Linked DNA regions of Homo sapiens. The protein of the gene in region 1 interacts with the protein of each later gene in a biochemical or structural test. Each region holds a gene or a part of one and is shown in the gene's direction. Other genes may lie near its edges. The genes, in order: ARHGAP21, CRHR1, SLC22A11, SHROOM3, JAG1, PLEKHA2 and SLC2A1.

Region 1 (4,080 bases):
ACAAGTTTATCTATATCCCCCTTGGATTGCAGTCCCTATAAGAGCAGGGACCATGTTTGTTTCCACAGGGACTGACACATAGTAAGTGTCAGGTGATATTTTTTGAATGAATAAATGAATATGCAGGAAAGGCTTTACATTTTATTCAGTGTTCATTTAGATTCCCGGACATTATACTCTCTTGATTATCTTCCTTCCTCGTTGTCACCTCCTTCTGTCTCTTTGAGGTTTCCTCGACATCCTGATTTGCTAAACCTTTCTACACCTCAAAGCTCAGTTAATCCTCATTTCTTCTCCCAATACTGTTTCATGGTTTTAAATATCAAGTATATGCAGATAATTGACACACACACACTCACTTATATTTCTTTATGTGTACATGTGTATATCTCTATTGCTGACCTGCTCCTCTGTCTCGCAGAATCAGATTCCTATATCCAACTGACCTGACTGCCTAGAATCTCCATTTGAATAGTAAATAGGCATATCTAAAACCACAATCCTGACTCTACCTCCATTCCCCTGGCCCACCTTCCCAAGTATGCTCCTTCCAGTCTTCCTCATCTCAAGCAATAGCAATCCCATCCTTCCAGGCCAGGCATCTTGGAGTGATCTTTGATGTCTCTCTTTTTTCTCATATATGACATGTGGATCTGGTTGACTGATTTCTCCACTTCAGTCCTTGCCAGCCTAAAGCCTGTTCTCCACACAGCAATCAGGACAGACAATTTATAAATCAAGTTGTGTCATTCCTTTGCTCAAATTCCTCAAATGGCTTCTCATTTCTCTGAAGATTGAAGGCCAAAGTTCTTGCAGTGACCTGCAAAGCCCTGTATAATTGGTCCTTCCCCCTCCCTGAGCGCACCTCCTGTGCCTCTTCCCGCCTCACTCTGTGCTAGCCATTCTGGTCTCTTGCTTTTCTGCATGTACACAAACGTGGGAGTCCCCAGAGCCTTCCCACTCACTGAACCCTCCCCTTAGAACACTTCCCCCAGTCTCTGCACAGCTTGCTTCCTTGGCTCCTTCGGGCTTTTGCTTAGAGGTCACCTTCCGAGTGAAGCTTTGCCAACCACTCCCTTTGTTGAATGCCCCTCCCCTGCTCCCTGTGCCATGCTCTGCCTTCCTTCCTTGCTTTATCTCCCTATCACTTAGTCTCCACCCGGCATGCTTATGCATTTGATTTTGTTTGTTTATTTGAGACAGGTAATATATCTAGAACGCAGGTGTTGAGAGTGCAGTTTGTCTGTTTTGTTCACATTGTGTTTCTTGTGCCTAGAAGAGTGCCTAGCACATAATAGGTTGTCAATAAATATGTTTTTGGAATGAATAAAGACTTAGCAAAACTCCAAAATGTTACTGAGTTTGCATTTGGACATGTAGTATGTGAATTCTTATTTATTTTATTTCTTTTTGAGACAGAGCCTTGCATTGTCACGCAGGCTTGAGTGCAGTGGTGCAATCTGCGCTCACAGCAACCTCCGCCTCCCAGGCTCAAGTGATTCTCCTGCCTCAGCCTCCTGAGTAGCTGGGATTACAGGCGTGTGCCAGCATGCCTGGTTAATTTTTGTATGTTTAGTAGAGATGGGGTTTTGCCATGTTGCCCAGGCTGGTCTCGAACTCCTGATCTCAAAGTGATCCACCCACCTCATCCTCCCAAAGTGCTGGAATTACAGGTGTGAGCCACTGCGCCCAGCTGAATACTTATTTTAGTTTATATAAAATATGTACAGTATGAAATATGTTCTTCCTTAGACCTCCTGCCCACCTTAAATTCTATTTCATTTCCGTTAGAACTGCTGTTAAAATTTTTGGTGCCTTTTTTCTTTGCACCTTTTTTACCTTTGGGAAGCTGGTAACCAAGTAACAGTAACCAAGACAATGTGTAGTACAAATGTATGAAACAATTTCCACTAAGAGATGAGATCATGATAATTAACAGACAAGTGAAAGGGCAATCAGACTGGTCGATAAGAGAAGCTATAAAAAGATAATCTGTATGGATGATGTTTTATTTCTTAAAACGAATGGCTAGTATATGGATGTTCCTTATTATGTATTTTTATTTTTTCATGTCATAAATATTTCATAACCAGTTAAAAAAAGATCACAAACATTGACCGTGATGAAATGTTAACAGTTGTTTATTCTGAATGATGAGAATATCAGGATTATATTATTTTTACATTTTCTCTTTTTTATTACCAAAATGACAATAAAAGAACACTATGTATAGACTTTAAAAATAGGTAATATGTATTCAGTCTTGTGAAAATTTGGTTTGTGGCAAACCTACACTGCTTAAAACAATACTAAAAAGCATACACACTGCTCAAAGCAACACTTAAAAAACAATTTTTTCTTTTTCTTTTCTTTTCTTTTCTTTTTTTTTTTGAGATGGACTCTCACTCTGTCGCCCAGGCTGGAGTGCAGTGGCGTGATCTTGGCTCACTGAAAGCTCTGCCTCGCGGGCTCATGCCTTTCTCCTGCCTCAGCCTCCCGAGTAGCTGGGACTACAGGCGCCCGCCACCATGCCTGGCTAATTTTTTGTATTTTTAGTAGAGACGGGGTTTCACCGTGTTAGGATGGTCTCGATCTCCTGACCTTGTGATCTGCCTACTGTGGCCTCCCAAAGTGCTAGGATTACAGGCGTGAACCACCGTGCCCGGCCAAAAAACAATTTTTAAAAAGCAAGTTTCTTCATTGGAGGCATAGGATTCATTCTAGACTAGTTACAGTATGGTATAACTCTATTATTTAATTTTAATTTTGTGTTTCTTCATACACCTGAATTTAAGTGTCAGAATACTGTTCCATGCCAAAAGTTTTATGCTGCAAGTTAGGGTTAAAGCTAAAACCTGTTAGAATTGAGAATGATGGCAGTAGCAGCAGCAGGGATCATTAAGTGGCATTTCGGCAGAAGCCTGGATTTTAATGTATTGAGTGGGGCCTATCACTAGATAAGAGCCATCAGCAAAGTGAGTACCCAGATCTAAAGAATTTCTCCGTAAATTGTTAGTGTTCCTTCCCATTCATTTCTTCCAGGTTAAGCGTTTTATGAAGTTCATTGTGCCTTGATGTTCTTCATTTCTTTAGTTACTACCAGGTCAAGTAATCTAGCACAAAGGTAATATTCAGTTTCTTTTGTTCTTTGCTTTGTGAAGGGTCCTGTCTTCTTATTATAGTTAACAATATGCTGATTTAAGTATGGGCAATGCTAGCGTTGATAAGATGCACAGATGCTGTTATTCAATGCAGCTATTTTCTGTTACAGAAAGACCATATGGTAGGCACTTGTTTTTCTGTCTAGTTGATGTGATTAGATTACTAAAACGAAAGGTTATTGGACTTAAAGATTGTCCTACTATTTTATCTAATTTTAATTGACTGTAAGTAATTAAATGTGTTAAAATATTGTAAGCCTTCCATATCTTCCCTGGTTTGAAGTAGAAAGATATCTAAATGCAAAAAACTCAATTTTGGATTGCTTTCACTAAAATAGTTTTATGGTTTAAGTTGCCATGTTCTTATAAAATTGGGTATTGTGCAAATTATTTCACAATCTAATCTGGATGATGGCATTTTGTGCTTCTCAAATAATCCAAAAGACAAATGGATATATTGTACTATAGGTTTGAGAAACTTGATGTGGGCTGGACGTGGTGGCTAATGCCTGTCATCCCAGTACTTTGGGAGGTAGAGTCGGGAGGATTGCTTGAGCCCAGGAGTTTGAGACCAGCCTGGACCAAATAGGGAGACCCCCATCACTTAAAAAAAAAAAAAAAGAAAAAAAGAAACTTGATGTGATGGAAATGTTTTATAAGTCCTCTTCTAGTTATCTATTTAATGTGCAAGAATTTCCACTATGTAGATTTGTGAATAAAAGAATAGATTGAGAACCCAAATTTGATATTTCTGACTATTCATCTGTTTCGGGGTAAGTAGACAGATCAGAAGAAACTGTTTATTATTGTAAAAAATAAAAATAAAAAAACAGGGAAGTTAAAGACTTTATTTACTTTTCCCTGGTGACTAGCTGCTGAGTTTTCTATTTGATATTGGGTGTGTTTTTGATTCAGAATT
Region 2 (4,080 bases), on another chromosome or scaffold:
CCAGGAAAGGAGCTGGGGTGATGGCCTCTCGACATGGGGTCAGTCTGTGAGGGCAGGGCTGGAAGACCCCTTTCCAGGTGCCTCCAGCGCCAGATGAGGTGGAGCACGCCCGTGCAGTCAGTCACAAGTGGGTACCCAGAGCTGCACCTCATCATTAAGCACTAATTAATCCATTTACTGATGAGTTGCTGCCAGGACTTCTAGGCCTTCTCCCTAATGCCCTCCCTCCTGCTGCATCTGATCTTCAAAGGGATGGGAAGCATTTCCAAAAATATCTATTTTCCCGTGATTCTTTGGGAGGACTGCTCAGCTCAGCAATTAAAGACAAGGAGGTCGCATCCTCCCTGGCAACGGCTCCCTGCTTGTTGGGCCTGCTTTCTTTCGGATCACCTCCTTTCTCCCCATCAAAGCCTGCTCCCTCTGGGTGACCCAGCCTCTGATGGGACTCCTGACTCTCCCCCACATGTCAAGGGGGGCAAGGGTGTTGAGCAAAGGGGCTCCTCCCACAATATCCACCGGTACCCTTTGATGGGGACAAGGGACACGCTCTGAGTCTCACGTAAGGTTATATAAATACAGCTCCAAGACAATAATAATAAAAATAACAGCCAACATCACATCCCAGGTACAGTTCCAAGCACCTTGTGCATGTTAACTAAAAATATTCAACTCTTGATGTAGGAGCTGCTATTCAGATGCTCTCACTTACAGAGGAGGAAGCTGACAGGTTTCGGGATTTGCCCAAGGTCACACAGCTAGTGGAAGGTAGTGCCAGGATTTGATGCTAGGCTGTCTGGGTCCAGGGGCCACGCTCTTAGCACTACTCCATGCTGCCTCTTAACTCAAGAACCACCCCACCCCATCCCACCACCCCCGGGCCCCTTCCAGCCGGATCTCTGTCCCAAAGCCCCTATCCCTGGAGGTATTTCAGAGCAGCCTCTGGTCCCGGGACTTCCCAGCCATGGCAGAGACACTGGGTTCTCCTGGTTCCTCGTCTCACCCTCCCCTCAGACCTCCATGAAAACCCACTGGGTGAGCCTCAGCCCTCCGGTAACTCATCCCTCATTTGGCAATTGGAGAGAATCAGCAGCCTCTTCACCAACTCTGCCCAAGGGCCTGAGGCTCCCTGAGACTGCGGTCCACTGACATGGAAGAGCTTTAAAAATCCATTTAGCCGGATCTCCCACTGGCCAGCTGTAGCTGAGCAGCTCCTCAGCAGGGGGACCAGGGAGGGGAATGGAGGGGAGTAGTGCGAGAGAGGAGAGGCCACATCTACTTTTCAGCCCTGGAGGCCAGGACGGGCTCCCTATCATCACCTTCTTGTCCTGATGCTGCCAGCAGAGGCAGCTCCCAGGCTGGATGGTCCCTTGGGGATCAGCCAGTCCAGCCCCTCCTTTTATAAATGAGAAGGGGTCCCCAGAGGTCAGTCATGCAGCACGGCAGCAGCTCAGCTGGTCCCAGGGCCCCAGCCTCTAGATCCTCACAGGGTTCTGCCCCATGGGGCTCCAGACTCAAGGACTGGGACTCCAGCAGCTTTCCCAGCCCTGTTCCAGCCCCAAGGGCCACTGGGAGCCACAGGAAGGCCTACAGTGAGGGAGGCTCCAGGTGAGATACTCAGGGCTTCATTTCTCTGCCAGGCAGTTCTGCCTGAAGTCAGAGCCAGAATTAACTCAAGGAAGCATGTTTAGAGCTACTGATGCCAGAGCCGGGTACAGGGTGGGGTGGGGCAACCTCTGCCAGCAGAGAAGATGAGATGGAATTTAGAACTCATGCTGTCCCTTCCCAGCTAGGTTTTAGGACCCTGGAGCTCAAGCCTGGTAGGCATGAAGGAGGGTAAGGGGAACACGTTGGGCAGCTCTGCCCATCCCAGGGCCCTAAAGCCAGGCATCAATTCAGCTCACAGGGCCCCTCCCCATCTCCTTAGAAGGTGACAGGTTCTGGGCCACAGTCCAGGCCGGTGGCTGCACAAACCTCCATATGTCCCTGGGCCACTCTCCTGCCTTCCTCCTTGAGTGACATGGGCCAGGCTAGGAGCAGCTGTGACAGACCTGAGTGATGACATCTCCCCACACACGCCTGTCACCTGTCATTTTCTGTCCAAGAGACCTCCATCATGGATGTTCCCCCCACCCACAGACCACGACCTTCCAACACAGGCCCGCTATGGGGAAGTGCCACCATGGGACCTTCCCCAAGATCTGCCCCATGAACTCTGAGCCCCCATGTGCAGCACAGCCAGTGAGGACCTCCCACGGCAGCCTCTGTGAGATGGCTCTACCACAAGAAGCCCTGTCATGCCACCTGCCACGCGAGCTGTCACCGCATACCCTTCCACCGTGTCATGCCCAGCCTCGTGAAAATTGACTCATGAGGTCTCACCATTTTTTTGCTGTCTTGCAAGACCCCTGAAAAGGAGATTTCTCAGAAGAGCACCTACCTGTCATCTGCCACCACATAATGACTTGCAAAGGAACAGCCCAGGGAGCTGGTCAAGCCTGTCCACGGGCCAGTCCTGTGGGCATGATCATGCCAGCTTGAGTGGGCAGAGCCGGGGGAGCCACCAACCCCTGCTGGAGGCCAATGGGCAGAAAGAGGCAGGAAGATGGGGGTGGTAAGGAAGCCCCTCTCCCCAGCTTCACTACACAACCCCCAGCCAGCAGGTGCCTGTACTGGCCATCTACAGATCCATCTACGCATCCATCTGGGCCAGGATGGTCAGGCAGGGGCCGGGGCTGCCCCGCCATCACTGCCTCTCTCTTCCTTTTCCAGACAATGGCTACCGGGAGTGCCTGGCCAATGGCAGCTGGGCCGCCCGCGTGAATTACTCCGAGTGCCAGGAGATCCTCAATGAGGAGGTGAGGCTGAGCCGAACAAGGCTGCCCATATGGAGGGGAGTCCAGGGTCCCCAGCAGAGTTTTGTGCCTGCTACTTGGAGTCAGGGAGCCAGAGGCTAATGTCAAGGCCCTGCTCTAGTGAAGCTGACTGGGGAGCTGGAGCTGTCAACTTGGAAAAGGCCCATGAGCAGGCGCCCTCGAGGGCAGGCTGGACCAATGGGGCACTGGGCAGGCTCTGATGGTGATGAGATGGGTCCTTGTTCCTTCCTTCCTTCTCCCTGTGCTCATCGGGCAGCCGCTTGCACTGGGCATGGGACTGTCCTGGGGGTGCAAAGGGAGACCAGACTCGGTCACAGGAGTCCCACCCTTTTCCACAACACATGCCTGAGAGATACATCCAGTTCCAGCCACAGGGCTGTATGGAAACCAGGGACGGGATGGAGGTAGCAATGCAGTTTGAAAAAGCCCTTGGAAAGCCTTTTAAAATGTTAAATGTTTTTGAGCAGATATTGCTTACACAGAACTCAGAAGGTACAAATGGGAATACAATGTCCCCTCCCACCCCGTCCCCAGCCACTGGATTCCCTCCCAGAGGCAACCATTTTGCCAATTTCACAAGTGTCCTTCCAGAGACATTCTCCGCATACACGAGTAATTTTGTATACGTATTCTTTTTTGTTTTTACCTGAATGTTGCATGTTATACACACTGTCTACACCTTGCTTTTTTCATATAATCATCTATCTTAGAGATGGTTCCATATCAGTACATAAAGAGCATCTTCATTCTTTTTGCATTTGCATAATATCACAAAATGTACCATAACTTATTTAAACCAGTCTTTATTCTCAGTCTTTAGTTATTACAAATGCTGCTGCAATGAATAATCTTTGAAGGGTGATATTTGGCAGAGGCACAAATATATCTATCCTGGAGCTGCTACTGCCCTCGGTCTCTCCCACCCTGTCTCCTTTCCCACCCGACGCTTTCTCCCTTGGTGCTGAGGAAGACGGGGGTCAAAGGGCAGAAGGGGGGACACCCCAGGCTGTCCGAGGGCCAGGGATTCTGATTGTGGAAGAGAGAGACTGACCTAAGCAGTCCCAAGAATCCCGTCGCCTAAAGATCAGAGCTGGAAGGGACCGTGGAGACTCTCCTTCCCATCTTGAGGTTCCCAGACTTGCCTGGTTATAAGAATCGTCCAGAGGCAGATCTCCTGAGGTCAGGAGTTCAAGACCAGCCTGTCCAA
Region 3 (4,080 bases), on another chromosome or scaffold:
TCACCATGACGGTGGTGGGATGTGCCTTCAGCGCAGGCCAGGCGGCGCTGGGCGGCCTGGCCTTTGCCCTGCGGGACTGGAGGACTCTCCAGCTGGCAGCATCAGTGCCCTTCTTTGCCATCTCCCTGATATCCTGGTCAGTATGATGTGGGACCTTTTCCTTAGGAGACCCAGGGTGGGAGGGGGACTCTTCACTTTCACCTCTCTGGCTGGCAGTAGGTCCAGAGACCTGGAGTGCCACAGAAGGGCCATGGCATGAGCGGCACCCTCGCTAGGGAGGGACATTGGTGATTGGCAGTCCTGGGCTAAGTGTTGCAGCCCGAGGTCCGTGGCTCCCATCCAGCCCAGACAGGCCAAGATGGGCTGGCACAGCATTGGCTCAAATGGTGATTTAAAAAATACATTTGTAACTAGTTGCTAACATTTAAAAATCAGAAGATTTTCAAAAACAAACAAAAACAGTATTTTTTACCTTCTTTGGAAAAACTGGAAGATCCAGGGGCACTGGGCTGAACTTCGGCCACAGTGGAAGCGGCCGCTCTCCCGGTCCCCAAGGCCCCACTGCCGCTGTCCCCTGGGCTGAGGCTGTGAGCATCGTCCTTCCTCAATACTTGCACCAGCCCCCACCCACCAGCTTCACTCCTTCACATACAGTGCGGACCAACATTGGATATGAAAATAGATTGTTGTCACTACAATTTTAGGGGCCGCAAAAATCCCTAAGGTCTGGAAATCCCTCCTTGGGTTGGCACTGAGGAAGGAGACACAGACAGGTGCAGAGGGTCTTAGGTGCTGGGGACACACAAGTGAACAAAACAGGCAAAAACCAGTGGCCCCGTGGAGCTTACGTTTCATACACAGATCAATAAGTGAAGAGGAAGGCCATCCCATAATTACAATAATTAGGCCATCCCCGCCACGCTGATCAGGTGTGTACCAGGTGCAGTTTATAACACTAGGTGCGTATTAACACACCTTCTAATAAGTAAGATGATGCGATTACCACCATTTTCAAATGAAGGACCGAGACCTAGAAAGGTTAGGTCACTCACCCAAGGTCACACACAGCCGGTGAATGCCAGAGGCAGGATTTGAACCTAGGCAGGCTAACTCTTCACCACTACGTCAGACTGCCTCCAGAAGTCCTTCTTAGCTTCCCTGCAAACAGGGCTGAGAGCCGGTGGGTTGGGCAGATCCTGTGCCTTCCACCAGGAAAGTGTTTCTCCTGGCCCACCTGCCCCTGAGGTTGGGGAGAAATAGACTGGTTTTATAAAATCACCTGGTTCTGCCTGGGGATATTTTAAATGTGCTAAAAAAAAAAAAAAAAAAAAAAAAAAAAGGCCGGGCACAGTGGCTCAAGCCTGTAATCCCAGCACTTTGGAGGCTGAGGCAGGTGGATCACAAGGTCAGAAGATCAAGACCATCCTGGCTAACATGGTGAAACCCCATCTCTACTAAAAATACAAAAAAATTAGCCATGGTGGTGCACACCTGTAGACCCTGCTACTCAGGAGGCTGAGGCAGGAGAATCACTTGAACCTGGGAGGTGGAGGTTGCAGTGAGCCAAGATCGCACCACTACACTCCAGCCTGGGTGACAGAGTGAGACTCCATCTCAAAAAAAAAACAAAAAAACCCAGCACCAAGTGACCTTTCTATCCTAGAAATAGCCCCAGAATCACTGGTGAAGCAGCCAACTCTAGGGACACCCATGCCCAGGCCACCTGTGCCCTGGCTGTGTGCAGGGCTCAGGTGGGCAGGCCCCGGGCAGCCAGGCGAGCCAGATGGAGGTGGCTCGCTTGGGAAGGTGGGCGGCCAGGCATTGGGACTCAGCTTTATTCTGAAACCGCTGGGGACTGCCAGGCTCCTGGCTGGGCAGCAGCGGCACAGAAGCATGTGCTTCCTCATCACTCATCTCAGCTGGAGGGTCCGTGCCCACTGCCCCTTTCCACCCCGCCCCGGGGGAGAGCCCAGCGTGCACTCCCAGCTACACACCTGCCTCCTTACAGGTGGCTGCCAGAATCCGCCCGGTGGCTGATTATTAAGGGCAAACCAGACCAAGCACTTCAGGAGCTCAGAAAGGTGGCCAGGATAAATGGCCACAAGGAGGCCAAGAACCTGACCATAGAGGTGAGATGCTGCTGTCTGCGAGACTTGACCTGGGACAGGACGTGCACTGAGGGATCATCCGTGTGGCCTCCAACAGCACCACCCACTCCAGCACCACCTCCACCAGCACCACCACCAGCATCTCCACAGACACCACCAACACCTCCATCACCACCTCCACACAGACACCACCACCACCACCACCAATCCCGATACCATCACCAACAGCACCACCACTGTCCACACCCACCATCACCTTCACTGCCATCACTCCATCACCACCAGCACCACCAATACCATCACTAACCCCACAGCCACCATCTCTGCAAAACATCTCCACCACCTTCACCACCATCGTCACCATCGGTAACAGCACCATCATTATCAACAGCACCCACACCGTCACCTCCATCACCCACCACCTCCACCTGCATGTAGCACGCACCCACCTCATGGGGGTTCTCGATGTGTCTGGGGAAACAGAATGTGTTTATTTGAAGGTAGCTGCTTTCAGGAAACAGGCGCTGCCAGAGATTAGAGTGAAGATGGGGTCGGAGGATAAGGGAAGGCTTCCAGAAGGAGGCAAGCTAGAGCTGAGAGGACCAGGGCTGAGTCAAACCTGCAGAAGAGCCAGGGCCTGGAGAGAACCTTTTCTGCCCCATCCCCTCCCCTTCCCCTAGGGATCCAGCTTCCAGAGGCCGAGGCCCAGGACAGGCTCCCCGTCACTCTGGCCACTTGGACACTGTTCTCTGGCACAGGGGGTGGGGCAGGGCCATTGCCCTACCATTCACGGTGCCCCCATTCTCCCCGGAAGGTGCTGATGTCCAGCGTGAAGGAGGAGGTGGCCTCTGCAAAGGAGCCGCGGTCGGTGCTGGACCTGTTCTGCGTGCCCGTGCTCCGCTGGAGGAGCTGCGCCATGCTGGTGGTGAAGTACGCCGTCCTGGTGTCCCTCCCCAAGGCAGGGCTGGGACAGGCAGGAGGCAGAGCTGGGACAGGCAGGAGGCAGAGCGTCCAGGGGAAACAGCACCCGCAGGCCTCAAGGGGGTGCATTTCTGTCTGGGACAGGACGCAGACAGCCCCAGCAGGCAGGAGTCCTGGCAGGCAGCAGAGAGGGACTATGCACAGGTGGGATCTGGAGGCTGCCATCTGCAGGAAGCCAGAGGAAAAGGCAGCTCTAGGCTGGGGGTCCCAGGGTCCCAGGGAGGTCCCAAGACAGAGGCAGAGCCAGGGTCCCTAGAGCCAGGGGACCAGCCACGGCCGAGGAGTACCACTGTGTGTCATCGTTAGAGACTTACCACTTTCCTAGAGACCATGGCCATGCTCCTAGAGGGTGAACCTGCATTCGCTGACCCCTCCATGCAACCCCACTTCACTGATGGGGAAAGAGGATCCCAGAGGGGTAAGGAACAAGCCCAAAATAATAGAGCCTGCATTGGAACCGGGCTGAGCTAACACTTGGCTTACCGGCACTGTCACTGCCAGGGCCCGCGCGACCAGACCCTGGCCCTCCCCGGGACCCAAGGTCATCTGGGCCCAGGAAAAGGCCCTTAAAACAAATTCAGTTCCGGTGACATCCAAAAGAGCATATTAAAAAGCAAGGACCAGTCAGGCGCGGTGGCTCAAGCCTGTAATCCCTCACTTTGGGAGGCTGAGGCAGGAGGATCGCTTGAGCCCAGGAGTTCAAGACCAGCCTGGGTAACATAGTAAGACCCTCTCATCGCTACTAAAAATCAAAAAATGAGGCAGGAGGATCACTGGAGCCCAGGAGATAGAGGCTGCACTGAGCTGAGATTGTGCTACTGCACTCCAGCCTGGGCGACAGGGCAAGATTCCGTCAAAGGAAAAAAAAAAAAACCTAAGGACCTGGTTTGATTGGGACTTTTATCTTGAAATAAAACTGAAGTTTAGGAAAACGTTTCTTTTATGCTATATTTAACCACATATGGGTTATGATGGCAAATACTTGCTACAT
Region 4 (4,080 bases), on another chromosome or scaffold:
AGAGAAAATAAGAAACTCAAAATCTCACATAAAAGGATTTTCTAATAAAGGCACCAAATGCTGCAAGGATTATAAAGTACTTTCCCCTGAAAATTTTAAGCAGTGCTGGGAATAGAAGCTGAGCATTCTGACTCCTAGGAGCCTGTTAATTTCCCTAATTCTTAGCCTATCCTCAGGCTTCACTTCCACTGTAGACCAGGGGCCTGCCTCATGCTTCCCTTCCCACCAAAGACAATAATAGGAATCACATACCTGTTAGCACAGGGGAGGAAGAACTCCGCTCCACTCTCCCCTCTCAGATTCTGCTGTTTTCCCTTTCAGAGAAGTCAGCCATTCAGCAAGCATCTGTAGAGCATGTGTTGTATGAAAAATGCTGTGTTACAGCATCAAAGGATACACAAAAGGAAAAAATAAGGCTCATGCCTTTCTGGAGTTCACAGTTAAGCAAGGAATACGACCTTATATGTATAAATCTAATATGACTAGTGAATGCTTTGGGAATAGTGATCAATAATATGCTATGGAAAGGAAAGTGATTAATTCTGAGGTGATCTGAAAGTGCTTCTCCTGAAGGGAAATGGGATTTTGGGCCAGGATGTAAAAGATGGGCATGATGACAAGAGATTAGGGGAGAGGGGATGCATTGATGGGAAGAAACCAGTTCAGACAAAGAAAGATTCAGCAGTTCTGGCTGAGAAGTTTGCTGCACTCTATCACACGCATACAGCAACAAATGCTACTTGCTCTTACCAGTCAGATGCTTATAGGGCAGGATTTTACAAGTTTTTGACAAGGATTTAGCTCTTTTTCAAAATTCTCATTAGGGAGGCCTTTCTGCCTCCAAAAACAAAGTCATCATGGAAATCAGTTCCTCTGTATGTGACGATTGATCCATCTCTGGCCTGAAATAATGACTGCAGGAGGCTACCATTTTGAACTACTTGTAGCCTGAGACCTTCTCATATATTTGGCAGGTCTGGCCTCTTCCTCAGCCAGCTTGAAATCCTCTCTGAAACATGCAACCTTCTATTTTCTTCTCCTTTAATTCCTCTTCATTGCAGAACAATAGATACTAGTGATGGAGCTTAAGTGCACATCAGACTCTTGCCTGTTTCCTTCTGAGAGAAAATACCGTCCCCTCCCAGATGTTTTCTGTTTAGAATTGTACAGAAATATTTTCTCCCAGTATAAATCCCCGACAAATATAGAGGCAACTTCCCATAAGCCTTCAGTAGCCTTTTCCTTCCTTCAGAATGAACAGAGCTAATTCCCACTCCCTATCCTACCACTAACACACATTTAAAATCCATATATGTAACACACAATTTCATTTAGCTTGATGGATTTTAGCAACTTAACTGCATAGCAGTCTAGACACCTTCCTTTCTCTCCCCGTGTTTCAAAGAAAATAAAAATGCTTAGGTGAAAACCAAATCATTATTGTTTATTCCCCATTAGATATTGTTATTTTGTCTTAGAGGTTGGTTGGATGGCTATGAATGTTATTTTATCTTTCCCCCCAAATATTTCTTAAGCCTGGTTGATTAAGAAATAAAGCTAAAACATAGGCGTTGGGAGAAGTGAAGAGATTCCTCCAAATCCCAATTAAATACTTTGTATTATTTGGAAAACTTTTTAGAAAGACAAGTGAATACAAAACAGTACTTGGGCACCCTTTTCATAAAGGGAATGCCATATTTAGATGTTATTTAATTTGGGGAATATGCAGGCAGAGAGGGAAATATTTCCAAATGAAATACTTCTTTTGTACTGCTTTGCTCCAACAAATACTGAAATTTCTGAACAATGCATAGTCTCTTATATTGTCACTGTGCCAGGACTGCATTCTTGAGCTTCCTCCCTCTCCTGGTCTCCTGCACAGCAGCCAGACCTTAGCTGACTGGAGAAGCATCTCATGGCAAGGCGGTCTGCTCCTTGCATCCTCTTCATCATCTGCCTTATTTGTAGTTATGATGAGTAAAAAATAAAACAAAGTTACTCTCACCACATAACTATTGTGGTTATTATATACATATTTTTCCTATTGAATAAATTTCAAGAACATTATCAGTAAGCTTTTGGGAAGGTTTGTTAATCAATCATTTTTCTCATCCTTGCTTTAGAGAATTCTGACAAGTTAAGTGAACTTGTAGAGACTGTCTGCCTGAGTTAAAACCACAATGTGGAGTGTGTTTCTGCTGCTGGCTTAGTTGATGCTATCTCCAACAAATGTTGCTTGCTCTTACCAGTCAGATGCTGACAGGGCAGGATTTTACAAGTTTTTGACAAGGATTTAGCTCTTTTTCAAAATTCTCATTAGTGAGGCCTTTCTGCCTCCAAAAACAAAGTCATCATGGAAATCAGTTCCTCTGTATGTGACAATCGATCCATCTCTGGCCTGAAATAATGACTGCAGGAGGCTACCATTTTGAACTACTTGTAGCCTGAGACCTTCTCATGTATTTGGCAGGTCTGGCCTCTCCTCAGCCAGCTTGAAATCCTCTCTGAAACATGCAACCTTCTATTTTCCTCTCCTTTAATTCCTCTTCATTGCAGAACAAATAGATATTAGTGATGGAGCTTAAGTGCACATCAGACTCTTGCCTGTTTCCACTTTCTTTCTGTGAGACCTTGGAAAAGTTAACCTGTTAAAAGTGGGTAGGACCTGCAAAGCTATAGAAAGATAGCCAACATTTCTGCCTTAGAGACAGAAATGTATATCTGTTCATTGCATAGATTTAAAATATAGTAGAGACTATAAAGAGAAACCCTTGGAGAAATAAGATTACTGGTGGGGATATTTCCCCCGGATGCTGAGTTAGAGACTTCTCTGGTTCTCACAGTATTTTCAGGGAACTTCATGTCTGATGTGTAACATAATCACTATGAGATGGTGTGACAAACATTACTGAATTGCTGAGGAAATTGCTCAATGCATGGAACCACAGTATTGGATATAGGCTTGATTCTGTGGAATGCAACTCATAAGTCTTTTTTAGCACCTTTCTACAAGCACACATTTAAGCTTATACAAAATAGAATTGACTTTCCACAAAATGTGAAGATACAAATAGCTAACAATAATCAAATTTTTGCTGTGTGCCAGTCATTGTACTGTGTTTTATAAGTATAAAATTAGTCTTGGCTGGGTGCAGTGGTGCACACCTGTAATCCCAGCACCTTGGGAGGCCGAGGTGGCTAGATTGCTTGAGGCCAGGAGTTCGAGATCAGCCTGGCCAACATGGCAAAAACCCATCTCTACTAAAAATACAAAAATTAGCTAGGCATGGTGGTGTGCATCTGTAGTCCCAGCTACTTGGGAGACTGAGGCACGAGAATCGCTTGAACTCACGAGGCAGAGGTTGCAGTGAGCTGAGATAGCGCCACTTCCCTCCAGCCTGGGCAACAGAGCAAGACTCTGTCTCAAAAAATAAAATAAAATAAAATTATTCCTCACATCTGTGCAATGAGGTAAATACTATTATTATCTCTAAGTTACAGAAGAAGGAACCAAGTCACCAAGAGGGTACAAAATTTGCCCAAGGTAGTAGAGTGAGGTTTTCACCCCATACTGTCTGACTGCAGAGTCTTTAAGTCACTATACCATGCCATCTCCTGAATAAAAAGAGGCTGGGAATGGGGAAACAGAGGCAAGAGTTAAATGTTCTATATCTGAAAATATCATCCAATGAATTTATTTCATTTTAACATTTATTACTATTTCAGTCATGCATCATATAATGGTCAAGGATGGACCACATATGTGACAGTGGTCCCATAAGATTATAATACCATACTTTTACTGTATCTTCTCCATGTTTAGATACAAAAATACATACCATTGTATTGCAACTGCCTACAGTATTCAGCACAGTAATATGCTGTAACAGGTTTGTAGCCTAGGAGCAATAGGCCTATACCATATAGCCTAGGGATGTAGTAGTCTATGTCATCTAGTTTCTGTAAGCACACTCTATAATGTTTGCACAAGGACAAAATTGCCTAATGATGCATTTCTCAGAACATATCCCTGTTGTTAAGTGACACATGACTGTATTTTTCACATCAGATTTTTCATAA
Region 5 (4,080 bases), on another chromosome or scaffold:
TCAGCCTCCCAAGTAGCTGGGACTATAGGCACATGCCACCACACCCAGCTTTTTTATTTTGTGTAGACATAGTCTTGCTATGTTGTTGAGGCTGGTCTCGAACTCCTGGCCTCAAGCTATCCTTCTGCCTCAATCTCCCAAAGTGTTGGGATTATAGGCATGGGCCACTGTTGCCTGGTCTTAGAAACTGACATTTTTTAGAAGTTACTTTTTTCTTTTTTTTAAACGAAGTAGAGAATTGCTCTGCAAGGATACTTTATAAAAGTCTCACCAGATCTGGCCACCAGATTAGCCTGCCCAATGAGTCCAGCCTGGCTGGCTCTGTTAGTCCCATGGAATTTTCAAACCAGGCATTTGGTATGGGTTGTTTTTTTTTTTTTTTTTTTTTTTAAAGGCTGAGGCTCATCTGAATGTGTCCTGGTGGGATGGGGAAGGATTATCTATACCTTTTTTTCTTCTAATGAAAAGGGTGTGGGCAGAATGGAAACTGACCAAGCTCTGCTCAAGGAGCCAGGGTAGCTGTGGTTTAGAGAGGCTGGACGAAGGTCCCCCTTCCCTCGTCAACTTGTCTGCATTTTGTCCCCAAACAATATCATGTTTTCAGAATCTGCTAACAAGGCCTTGAAGTTTAAAGCTGGTTTTGTTATTTGGGCCCCTCCCATCTTCCTCTCCTTACAAGGGACTTGATATGAGACCTGTTAAAATCGTGGAATTTGCAGACTTTAATGCAATGGGCCATTCTCATGACCGGGGCGATGCAAGGAACAGGCAGTGTGCTGACACGCCCTTCTCTGTTTTTTACAGCTATTTGCCGACAAGGCTGCAGTCCTAAGCATGGGTCTTGCAAACTCCCAGGTGACTGCAGGTAAATCAACTGGTCTTTTGTGAGATTTCTTTTAATTTTCCTTTATGTAAGAGAGGAACTGACTTTATTGTGACTATGCCTCTTTTTTCCTTGGAGAACAAGAAAGCTTTTTTAAAAAAAAAATTCAGATAGACACATCCGAAGCTTATTAAATTATACCAGCTGTCTGGTGGAATGCACACACCACTTCTCTCTTGGAATAAAAAGAAACTCTTTGGGCATAGCCAGTGACTTCATGTATTAACTGTTCTGTAAATTGATAACACATTTTTATAATCTTCCCTTATAGTGCTGATGGGCTAGATGGAGGGATGTGGGCTTGTTTCTTTGCGTCTCTCTCCTCTTCCACCAAGGCTTTCTTCTCCCAGCCCCCTCCCCGACTTTTCCCATCAATAGGCGAAAGTCCAGCATTCTTTAGAATGGGATTAGTCCAATCTCCTGGCCCCTTTGCAGGCGGGAGCTGGGTTGGTGCTGAGAGGTTAATGGCTGCCCTGGAATCTTGTCAGTTGAGCCTGATGAATGTAGACTTTTGCTGCAGTCCTTTGAAGTCTGTTCCTTTATGGTCCAGGAACAATGCGGAAGCCAAAGGGAGGCCTGCCCTGACCACTTCACGATGGCGGGTTTTGGAACTTCTTGAAATTTATATTACGCCCGTTTGGAAAAGGCTTATTTTGGGAAATATTGTTGGTGTCTGTGGTGTTTTTGGCAGTCTTAATGCTTTGCTCTCCCTCCTCCCAAATTTTAAGGAGTAACGCTAAATGGATCCTTTGAGCCTGTCACTTTTGCCCCCAAAGCTACTCTGACATGAGTAAAGGGAATCTTATGAAACATAGTCTAAACCAGTATGTCCCAAACTAATGTTATTTGGGGCTCTTATTAAAACGCAGGTCCTGATTCTATAGGTCTGGGCTGAGCCCAGGTTTCTGCATTTCTAACAAGCTCCCAAGCGATGCTGCTGATGGAACCATCAGCAATCACTGCCCCCAGACCTCAGTACTCAAAGTGTAACTTCCAGAATTAACAAGGGAGCTGTTAAAATGCAGGTTCGTGGGCTCCGTCCCACATCCATAGAATCCTAGTCCTTGGTTTGGCCCAGGAGTCTGCATTTGACAAGCTGGCCACATGACTTTGCTGCTTAGTAAATTTTGAGGCTACTCCTTTAAAGAGAACTATCTGTGGCCTTTACCTTTATGATTCCACCGCTCCGTCTGTTCCCCTCCCATGCAAGGGGGAACATGGAACTAAATTAAGAACTGGTTGTCCCGAATTGTCTCTTCCTACACTTCAGAAAGATAGTTTATTTCCTGGAAGGCTGAGGGGCTTCTCCTGCTGTCTCCCATTGGTGGCGATGGACTGTAGTATTTAACAGCATTGCTGTCCAATGCGGAGCAGGAATCCACCTACCTTAACTCTTCCTAATTAAGGGTGTTCTGGAGAAAGTCCCAATGGCAGTGCTATTAGTGATTCCAAGCCTGCTGCCTGCTCAGATGGATATCAGCGGAGGCCGACTGTGATTTGTGCTGCTGTCATCAGAACACACATACAGCTATACAGGGGAGGGCCCTCCCAGCCAGAACAACAGGCTTTGTTTCCAGAATTTAGCCCTTTCTCTTTCGAAGTCCCACCTCCCTCTCCCTGCCCAGACACGCACTGATGGCCTTATTTACTTAAGGTGCGACTTTCCCACACATCATTTGCATAGTCTCCCAGCCCAGTTTTCCCTCCCTACCTTGAAAGAAAGTCAAAACAGAACCTTCACGCTGAGGAAGTTCAGGTTGTGTCCTGCTGCAGAAATAGTTGAATGGCAAGTTACCTGCAAGTTGTCTTTTGGATTATGTATTACACAGGTTATTTTTTTTTTCACCCCCACATGAGAAAATTTACTGGTTTTTGTTGTTCCCAAGTAGACTGAGTCCCTTTCCCTGGGTATACATGCTTGCTTATTGCAAGCCTGCCAATAATATCAAACTTAATTATGAATCATCATCTGAGGAAAGTCACTTCAATTTCTCATGAGAATCTTAATCATATATTATTAAACTGGGATAACTTGGTTGGTGCCTCTTTTAGGGTCAGTATTTTTATTTGTTTTCTTTTGAAGTCATCCATGGCCTCTTGTGGTTGCTTTTTTATGCTTGGGGATTGAGGTCTCTTTAATTAGGTGAGGTTGGGTCCTCAGCTGCCTCTCCTTGCCTTTATGAGGCAACTTGAAGAGGGCTAGTGATCCTGAATTTGGAAGAGAATAAGGGAAGACGGTGAGAATATTGCCATTTCGTAATCAGTTCCCTCTTACTATCTTTCAGGCTAAGAATATCAGCCTTGACAGAATGGCTACACCCTTACCTCCCACTAACGTGGGTGTCCGCTTTTGAGAAATTATTTAGATTGTAATTTTGTTCTTATCTTACTCCTTTAGTCACTTGTCACGTTGACATTCCATTTTACATAAACCAGAATCCAGTGTCTAACTTTAAACCACACATTCTAGTGATTTCTTTGCATGTGGGTGTGCATAGCTTGGTTTCAGAAGTTAGGAAGTGGTTAGTCAGTATTCTCAGGGGTTAAGTTGACTCTCAGCCGTGGGTGATTAGCTATTAGCTAGATCCCTATAATTTTCCCATGACAAGGATTTGCTAGCCTGCCTCCCGCTCTTGGGAAACCGAAAGCCTTTCCTTCTGGGGAGCTAGAGGGGGCGGGGGTTGTTTTCCAGAGTTACAGCTGAGCAGCTTAGGGGGTTGGCGCTGATCGTGGCTTTTCCCAGGTCCCGTTCTGGAAACATGTTGCCCATCCCACCCGCACCCCACCCTCCACCCTCCACCCTCCACGCTCCACCGGGAGGCTAGTTGATGTTTCTCCCTGCCTTCCCCCACCCTTGTTAAAGCTTGGCTCTTGAGAAGGCAATTAAAGTTTCAGAGGGCTTGAAAATTCAAGGGAGAGTGGTTTGAGACGCTGCCCCCTCTCCCACCCCAGATGAAAGTTGTTGTATTTGTTTTTGTTTTTGCTTGGGGATCAGAGGCACTATTTGGCCCCAAAAGAGTATGATTAATCAAGGTGCTTATATAAAAGAACCTCAACTCCGCCAATACTAGATAAATTAAGCAGACTGCTTTCTTTTTTTTTTCTTTTCTTGGCAAAGCAAGAAATCACTATAAATTAGCACACAGTAATGGGACACAAATTATGGAGTTGGTTCCAAGTGTTGTCATTTCCTTCTC
Region 6 (4,080 bases), on another chromosome or scaffold:
ATTTTAAAAAATACTGCATGTGACTAACAAAACATTGTTTGGGCAAAGTCAGTGGGTGGGCCACCAATTTGCAACCTCTGGCCTGTGATTTCCAACTAACAATAAAAATTTTATGATGATTTGATCAGCTGTGGTACCATATCTCTGTCAAGGAAGAGCAAAGATAGCTCATTCTTCCAAAAGGGCTCTGTGTATAATTATTAGTAACAACGTGGGAAGCCTTAATTATAATATTTTGTAATATGTTTTTCTTTTTAGTTGTGTTTCTAAAGCATTTAATATACTCTATCATTTGATAACCACAACGATGGTTATGATAAATATTATTCCACTTTTCATTTTATGCATGAGACGGTTTAGGCCTAGAAAGGTTTGATGGTTGCCAAAGGTCTCTCAGGTGGTTCGTGAGAGGTGAAGGGTTATACCACACATCTTCTGGCTCCAGACTTCATGGACCCCTTGTTCTGTCTCTACAAAGGCATGCATGCATTTTTACCTGTTCAATCTGCCCAGAATGCCTTCTCCCAGCTTCATGTTCCTGGTTCCTTTTATTTAGTTTTTTATTTTGTATTTTTTTCGAGACAGGGTCTCTGTCACCTAGCCTGGAGTACAGTGGTGTGATTATAGCTCACTTCAGCCTCCAATTCCTGGGCTCAAGAGATTCTCCTACCTTGGCCTGTTGAGCAGCTGTGTGCTACCACACCTGGCTAATTTTTTTTTTCATTTTTAGTAGAGATGGGATCTCACTATGTTCCCCAGGCTGGTCTTGAACTCCTGGGCTCAAGTGACCCTCCTGCCTTGGCCTCCCAAAGTGCTGGGGTTACAGGTGTGAGGCCCCGGACCTGGCCCCCATCTCCTGCTTACCCTCCAGGTTGCCGTTTGAGTGTCTCCCTGCCTTCTCCTCTAGAGACCTCCCTGCCCACTCTGTTTCCAGCAGGTCCCCTGCTGTGCGCTGCCTCAGCTCTCTTGATCTTCTTTGTGCCACTCACCACCATTTGTAATTACTCTGTTTGTTTTACGTTTTTTTTTGTCATTCCCCCTACTAGCATGTAAGTGCCGTGAAGGTGGGGACCCACGTGTGTTTCGCTTGACACTTTATCTTTGGTTTCTAGCCAGGGAAGGGCTGGCTCATAAGTAGGCGCTCAAGAAATTCCTGGAGTCAGTTTGTATCTGTGTAGGGGGAGGGCGTTGCTGGTTGAGATGCTCATATTCAGATTTGGACTGTGGAAGGCTTGGGGAGGACACGCAAGTCTGACTGTAATTTGGCACATGAGCTTTTCTCACGGCAGCCCCATTCTGTTTTGGGCTCCCCATGTTTCCTAAATGTTCTGTTCCCCATTGATTGTTGCTGCCGCTCACCCCAGGTTCCCAAAGGTGGGGGCCTACCCATGACCACTGAAGTTCTCAAGAGCTTAGCAGCTCCTCCAGCCCTGGAGAAGAAGCCACAGGTGGCCTACAAGACGGAGATCATTGGAGGGGTGGTGGTCCACACACCCATCAGCCAGGTGAGGGGCCTGACTGGGGCTGCGGGGGGAGTGGGGGTGTGGAAGTGTCCATGGTGTGCCCATGATGTGCTCGGAGCACTGTACTGGGGAAAAGGAGGGTGGGAGTGGGGGGCAGCTGGTGCCAGTGGAGCCATCAGGAAAGTACAGGTCATGTTACATCCCCATTCATGGGTGTTAGTGACGGCAGTGCGGAAGTGGAGGCTGCTGCATCTTGAAGCCATGTGGCCTGTGCAGTTCTGTGCCGAACACGGGAGACACAGAAGATGAGGGTTTGTGAAACCATAGGAAATGGGACAGAGCATGGCAAACAAGGCTGGAAACCAGCCTGGTGTCCCTGCTGGTTCACATTCCCTATCCTTCCCTTTCTCCTGGGTCGGCCCAACCTCCCTGATGCTGGTTCTGTGAAAGTACCCAGTAGAGTGCATGACAGAGAAAGGAAAGGTTTATTTTCCTGTTTTAATTATTTATATTTATTTAAGTTTTTTTTTTTTTTTTTTTTTTTTGAGATGGGGTGTCCCTCTGTCACCCAGCCTGAAGTGCATATACACATAATCACGGCTTATTGCAGCGTCTGCCTCCTAGGCTCATGCAATCCTCCTGCCTCAGCCTTCCTAGGCTCAAGTGATCCTCCCACCTCATCTGGGACCACAGGCATGTGCCACCACGCCTGGCTAAATTTTTTTGTATTTTTTGTTGGAGATGGGGTTTTGCCATGTTGTTATTTAATTTTTTTAGAGACAAGGTCTCGCTGTGTTGCCCAGACTGAAGTGCAGTGGTGCAATCATGGCTCACTTCAGTGTCAGACTCCTGGGCTGAAGCCATCCTCCAACCTCTGCTTCCTGAGTAGCTGGGACTACACGCCTGGGTAATTCTTTTTTTTAATTTTTAAATTTTAAAATCAAAATTAAACAAAAATTTTAAAACAATTTTTAATTTTTTTGTAGAGACTGGGTCTCACTGTGTTGTCCAGTCTGGTCTAGAACTCCTGGGCTCAAGCGATCCTCCTGCCTTGGCCTCCCAAAGTGTTGGGATTACAGGCGTGAGCCACTGTGCCCACCATTTATTTCTTCTTTGACTTAGGGCAAAGAGGCCAGAGATTCAGGCAGAGGGAGGTAGGTGGGGCTGTGGCTGCATAGAGGGAGGGAGGCGCTGATACTGACACTGTTTCCTTGCAGAACGGTGGGGATGGGCAGGAAGGGAGTGAGCCCGGGTCCCACACCATCCTTCGAAGGTCTCAGAGTTACATCCCCACGTCAGGCTGCCGTGCTTCCACTGGGCCTCCCCTCATTAAGAGTGGTTACTGCGTGAAGCAAGGGAATGTGGTGAGTGTCAGCACAGGGGCTGAATTGGGGTTCTGGTGACTCCTCAGAGCCAGTGGCTGTAGACATAGCAGAGGTGAGAGGGGATTGACAGGAGGTGCCTCAGTCCTCCATGGAGCCTCCACCTTTGAGGGTGAGATTTTGGGACTGACCTTTGGCTCCCACCTGTCAGAGGTGTTGCCCCTGATATGAAGAAGCCCTTGCCCCTGCTGAATGTGGGAGCCGGACTTCCATGGGGCTGGGTCCTTGGGAGCTTAGCATGAGTACACCCTCCACAATGCTGGGCACCTCTCGCTAATGGTCTGCCTTTTATTTTTTTATTACAGCGGAAGAGCTGGAAACGTCGCTTCTTTGCACTTGATGACTTTACCATCTGCTACTTCAAGTGTGAGCAGGTTTGTAGTAGCTTTGCTGCCCTTCTGAGAGGTCATGGAAACTAAGAGGTGCATAGGTGCACACCCACAGGAGAGCGTGCATGAGTGGAGATGTGGGCACACAAAGACTTCAAAGGCGCCTCTGTCTTATCTCCATTCTGTGCACACATCTTTACAGTGACACTAAAGTGTCCTCTCTGCAGTGAGCTGCTGTGTGGTCAGAGTCATAGCTACACAACATCTTCTTCTTATATTTTTTTGTCTTTTTTCTTGTTTTTGGAGACAGGGTCTTTCTCTGTCACCTGTCACCCAGGCTGGAGCACAGTGGTGGATTTTTTGTAGAGACAGGATTTCACTATGTTGCCCAGGCTGGTCTTGAACTCCTGGCCTCAAGCAATCCTCCAGCCTTGGCCTTCCAAAGTCCTGGTATTACAGGCATGAGCCACTCTGCCCAGCCAGATTTTTTTTTCTCTTGCTGATTATTTTGAGACCAGATTATTTGTCAACCTGATTTTAGCCAACCATCTCTGAGAAAGGGGTATTGGTCAGCTGGTCTGGGTCGTGATATGACACAGACAGCCTCACTTACCTGTCTTTCTGTTCTTTCCACCAGGACCGAGAACCACTGCGCACCATATTTCTTAAGGATGTTCTGAAGACCCATGAATGTCTGGTCAAGTCTGGGTAATTGTGTCTGCTTTTTCTCTTCTAATCCAAACCTCCATTTGTCCTCTTAAATCTCCCTTTACTACCCTTCAGAGACTCTATGCAAGAGTCATCTTCTTCCAAGAGCCAGGCACAGGAGCCTAACACCTTGTGGCTGACTCACTGCATCCAAGCTAACACAGGGAGGAGACCGCCCTGGGCACACTTGCCCTCTTC
Region 7 (4,080 bases), on another chromosome or scaffold:
GCCCGCCTCGGCCTCCCAAAGTGCTGGGATTACAGGCCTGGGATTACAGGCGTGAGCCACCACGCCCGGCTGTATTTTTAAATTCATGCACATGCAGTTTGATACTAACAGATGATATGCCTTCATAAAATAGAAATTTCAAAAGACAGATAGATACAAGACAGCAGTTATAGTCATTTTCCCCTCCAAATCTTGTGTAGATCATTCCATATACATTCTGGAATAAAGCCCTTCCCTTTGGAGACTGCTGATTTGACCTGCAAGCACAGCCTTTTTGTGCATGATGTTAGAGGCCTGGGGAGGTCATATCGCTTGCCTTTCACACAAGATCTGAAAACCAGGTGTGTCTGGCTCCAAAGCCTTGGTTCTGCTATGTTCCTCTTTGTCTCCTAGGAAATGGGAACTGACTTAACTAACTTCCCCGTGTTCCATTGTGCTCCTCTGTAACTCACAGTAATGAGCTTAGCTGAATAGGAAGTAGGGGACAGATGGAATCACCTTGCCTACAAGCCAGGGGTTCGCCCACGATCTCTCCTGGGCAGCACGCAAGGGTGAGCCCTGCCCCAGATGTCTCACCCCACCCTTCGTGAAGAACTTGTAACTAGCCTTGCCTATGCCCATCACTCATCACTTTTCTGGCCAGTCTCTACCTTCCAGAAAAGGAAAAATCAGAAATCTGCAGGCTTTCTCAGCCCCTTTGTGGTGCAGACAGCATAGTTTTTTGTTTTTTGTCTTTTTTTGAGACGAGGTCTCACTCTGTCACCCAGGCAAGTATCTTGGCTTACTGCAACCTCTACCTCCCAGGCTCAAGCGATTCTGTCACCTCAGCCTCTTGAGTAGCTGGAACCACAGACATGCGTCACCGTGCCCAGCTAAATTTTTGTATTTTTGGTAGAGACAGGGTTTCGCCATGTTGCCCAGGCTGGTCTCGAACTCTTGAGCTCAGGTGATCCGCCCACTTCAGCCTCCCAAAGTGTTGGGATTACAGGCGTGAGCTACCGCACCCGGCCAAACATAGATGTTTGCATATGTGGTTTTGAATCCCAGCTTAGCTTAGTTGCCCAGTTTTCATCATTACAGTGTCTAGGAATTCAGAAAAGAATGTACGTCTCTGTCCCCATAGATGCTCCATAAATATTTCTTGCTTCCTTGGACTCCCATGATGCCTTACCTGGGCTGTGGGTGACTTGTACCTGGGCCTTGGCCTTTATCCAAAAGCTGGCATTCTGGCAGTATGAGCTTTTGGGGAGTCAGGATGCTGGCCCATGGGTATTAAGTCAGGTAAATCATTAAAGCTCCCACTAACCCATTCTTCCTAGTAGGGGCTTGTTGGGAAGTGAGTAGGCATGGCACATGGGTGAGAGTGCCAGGCCAGGGAGGGTCAGCTCATGTGAGTGCCCTGCGCTGCTTTGGGCTTCTTTGCTTTGCTTTTTTGCCTTAGGCTTCCTGCCTACCTTTCTGAATTTGGGTCACCCTTGGGATAGTTTGAAAGGGACATTCATGTCCATTAACTCCAAGGGTCCTCACAACTGCCCTGTGATACAAGTTACAGTGACCTCATGGTCCAATAAAAAATGACTTTGCCAAGATCACACACTGAGCCTCCCACCCCAAGACATGCTGCCAGCCTTTCCAGGATGACATTAGAGGGTGGAAGGAACCCAGAGCAGGAGGGGCCTTCCAGCCATGGCCCAGCCCTCCATTTGACAAATGGGGAAATTGAGTCCAGAGAAGGGAAGAGATTTGTCCGAGATAAGGCTATCACAAAAGATTTGAGGCGTTCTATGGAGCTGTGTTTTGTTTTGATTTTTGAGACGGAGTTTCGCTCTTGTTGCCCAGGCTGGAGTGCCATGACACAATCTCAGCTCACCACAACCTTCGCCTCCCAGGTTCTAGTGGTTCTCCTGCCTCAGCCTCCCGAGTAGCTGGGATTACAGGCATGTGCCACCATGCCCGGCTAATTTTTTTGTATTTTTTTTTAGTAGAGATGGGGTTTCTTCATGTTGGTCAAGCTGGTCTCGAACTCCAGACCTCAGGTGATCCGCCCACCTCGGCCTCCCAAAGTGCTGGGATTACAGGTGTGAGCCACCGCGCCTGGCCTAGCTGTGTTTTTTTTTTAAAGATGCTTTCTTCTCCACATGCCTGTCTGTGCCATCCTCCACCCACCCCAAATGAGCAGGAATCCCCAGACACAGGACTTGCCATGCCATAGGAGCCTGAAAGTTGGATTAGACGTAACTTGACAACTGAAACTCTACTGTGAATGGAAACAAAACACTAGATGTTCCCACTAAACTCTGACCTTGAAGAAGTGGCTTTCCTTGGAGCCTTGGTTTCCTTCTCAGTAAATAGAGACTTGGCTACCCCCAGTGGATGTGGTGAGACTGGCCCCGTGCCCTAAATTAGAGAAGTGGCTATTTTAAGTGGAAAGACCCTTTGTAAGGCCAGTCTGGGTGTACAAATGATGTAAACAGCCCCAAGATGATCCTTGTCTAGTACCGAGCCATCCAGGGATTCGACCCTATTTGCCCCGGAGCTGGGCCAGCCTCAAATCCCCCGTAATCAGCTTGTGACTTCAAGGAGCTCAGCTTTGCCCAGTGCCTCCTGGTCACGGGGTGTCGGCCCAGAGCTCTGCTCAAGTACCAAGGGTACAGCCATCCAGCTCCCTGCTTCCCCAAGACTGGCAAAGCTGGGGAGGCCTGGAACAAAGAGGAAAGTGTGCAGTGTTGGCTTGGGGCCTGCAACCTCACCCCTTCCCCCACCTCACTCCTGGGCATAAAGGTGATAAAGCCGCTCACTCAGTCTGCAGTCTGGTAACCGACGTCCCCATGATGGCGGAGGCTGGGAGGCCTCCTGACCAGATTCATGGGCTCAGAGAGGCTGTGTCCAGGCCTGCAGGCCCAGCCCTGGCTACCCTAACAAGCCTCCAATTGTTACCTCTCTCCACGGGAGGGGTGGACTGGAGCCTGAGGCTCTGTCTTCCAGCCACCAGGCCTGGCAGTAGCTGATGCATAAACATTAGGGTTTTGCAGTAACTGAGCAGGGCTCCCAGGCCTTGAACCTGGGCAGAAAGAAGACAGCATCTCCTCTCTTTGTGACCACACTGACTTGCCTCCCTGAGGCTTCTGCACCCTGGAATGGGAGAGAGCTCTTGCCAGGCCTCAGCTGATGGAGCCTTTGGCTACTGAGGCCTCTGCTGGACAGGAAGTCTGCCTATGTCTCCTAGCCCAGTTTATCTCCCCCTGCCCTGGCATTTGGGAGTGGGGAGGAAACGGCTCCATCAGAAACAGCTCTACCATTGGACCTTAGGCCAGCCACACTTCTTGTTGGAGCTTGTGTCCTCAGCTGTACTGGGGATGAGAGCTAGCTGTCTGGGTCAGCGGCACTGAGGCTCCAGGGGAGCATGTGGTCTGTGCAGCAGGCTTGGGGAGTGCTGAGCAGCACAGATTGGGTTTCATAGCACAGTGGGAGCCCAGACAGGCCAGCTAGCCATAAGCACCTCTGCTGGAGGAAGAGGTGGACTCTCTTGGGCTGGAGGGCCCAGTTCAAGGAAAGAAACAAACAGCTACACTGGGCTCCTTGATCACCCAGCTGTGGCAGTTCTTCTTGAGGACTTCCTGCCCCTAGGTGGGGGCTGCCTTCAGCTCCCTGCTGCGTGTGATAACTTGGGTGTGGCCCTCACAGCTGTGCAGAAGCTATTCCCAGAGGGTTCTGGCCCCAGGTAAACAGATTCTGCTCTGGGCTCGCCTTGCCTCCATCCCACAGCCCTGTGTGCTGTCTGTGGCACAGCCTAGAGCAGCACTGCCTCGTGGCCCTGGCCCTTATGCGGCTGGAGCTGATCCTGAAGTCCAGTGTCCCAGCGGTCATGGCTGGCATCATCACCATCTACAACCTGGTGATGGAAGTCCTTATCCCCAACTCGCTGATCGACTGCATCAGCCTCTACGGGAATCTCCTCCAGCCAAGCGCTAGGCTGAGTGTGGGCCTGAGTGGCCCGGCAGCCAGCTATGTCATCAGCACTGTGGGGGACACAGTGCTGCCTAGAAGCCCGGGCTATTTGTGGGCTTGATCCTGATCCTC

Evidence for each region.
Region 2: the proteins of ARHGAP21 (region 1) and CRHR1 interact in a test that uses a peptide from one of them, tested with the Homo sapiens proteins (one large-scale study listed by IntAct).
Region 3: the proteins of ARHGAP21 (region 1) and SLC22A11 interact in a test that uses a peptide from one of them, tested with the Homo sapiens proteins (one large-scale study listed by IntAct).
Region 4: the proteins of ARHGAP21 (region 1) and SHROOM3 interact in a test that uses a peptide from one of them, tested with the Homo sapiens proteins (one large-scale study listed by IntAct).
Region 5: the proteins of ARHGAP21 (region 1) and JAG1 interact in a test that uses a peptide from one of them, tested with the Homo sapiens proteins (one large-scale study listed by IntAct).
Region 6: the proteins of ARHGAP21 (region 1) and PLEKHA2 interact in a test that uses a peptide from one of them, tested with the Homo sapiens proteins (one large-scale study listed by IntAct).
Region 7: the proteins of ARHGAP21 (region 1) and SLC2A1 interact in a test that uses a peptide from one of them, tested with the Homo sapiens proteins (one large-scale study listed by IntAct).

Annotation. Positions count from the first base shown.
Region 1 is NC_000010.11:24,713,341-24,717,420, reverse strand, and holds part of ARHGAP21 (rho GTPase-activating protein 21), read left to right. Parts: intron 1-4,080. UniProt on the Homo sapiens protein: Functions as a GTPase-activating protein (GAP) for RHOA and CDC42. Downstream partner of ARF1 which may control Golgi apparatus structure and function. Also required for CTNNA1 recruitment to adherens junctions.
Region 2 is NC_000017.11:45,818,586-45,822,665, forward strand, and holds part of CRHR1 (corticotropin-releasing factor receptor 1 isoform 2 precursor), read left to right. Parts: intron 1-2,769; coding exon 2,770-2,855; intron 2,856-4,080.
Region 3 is NC_000011.10:64,562,300-64,566,379, forward strand, and holds part of SLC22A11 (solute carrier family 22 member 11), read left to right. Parts: coding exon 1-136; intron 137-2,008; coding exon 2,009-2,129; intron 2,130-2,922; coding exon 2,923-3,038; intron 3,039-4,080. UniProt on the Homo sapiens protein: Antiporter that mediates the transport of conjugated steroids and other specific organic anions at the basal membrane of syncytiotrophoblast and at the apical membrane of proximal tubule epithelial cells, in exchange for anionic compounds.
Region 4 is NC_000004.12:76,742,556-76,746,635, forward strand, and holds part of SHROOM3 (protein Shroom3), read left to right. Parts: intron 1-252; exon of another isoform or gene 253-345; intron 346-4,080. UniProt on the Homo sapiens protein: Controls cell shape changes in the neuroepithelium during neural tube closure. Induces apical constriction in epithelial cells by promoting the apical accumulation of F-actin and myosin II, and probably by bundling stress fibers.
Region 5 is NC_000020.11:10,653,183-10,657,262, reverse strand, and holds part of JAG1 (protein jagged-1 precursor), read left to right. Parts: intron 1-804; coding exon 805-865; intron 866-4,080. UniProt on the Homo sapiens protein: Ligand for multiple Notch receptors and involved in the mediation of Notch signaling. May be involved in cell-fate decisions during hematopoiesis. Seems to be involved in early and late stages of mammalian cardiovascular development.
Region 6 is NC_000008.11:38,949,486-38,953,565, forward strand, and holds part of PLEKHA2 (pleckstrin homology domain-containing family A member 2), read left to right. Parts: intron 1-1,364; coding exon 1,365-1,505; intron 1,506-2,680; coding exon 2,681-2,827; intron 2,828-3,150; coding exon 3,151-3,219; intron 3,220-3,811; coding exon 3,812-3,882; intron 3,883-4,080. UniProt on the Homo sapiens protein: Binds specifically to phosphatidylinositol 3,4-diphosphate (PtdIns3,4P2), but not to other phosphoinositides. May recruit other proteins to the plasma membrane.
Region 7 is NC_000001.11:42,952,257-42,956,336, reverse strand, and holds part of SLC2A1 (solute carrier family 2, facilitated glucose transporter member 1), read left to right. Parts: intron 1-4,080. UniProt on the Homo sapiens protein: Facilitative glucose transporter, which is responsible for constitutive or basal glucose uptake. Has a very broad substrate specificity; can transport a wide range of aldoses including both pentoses and hexoses.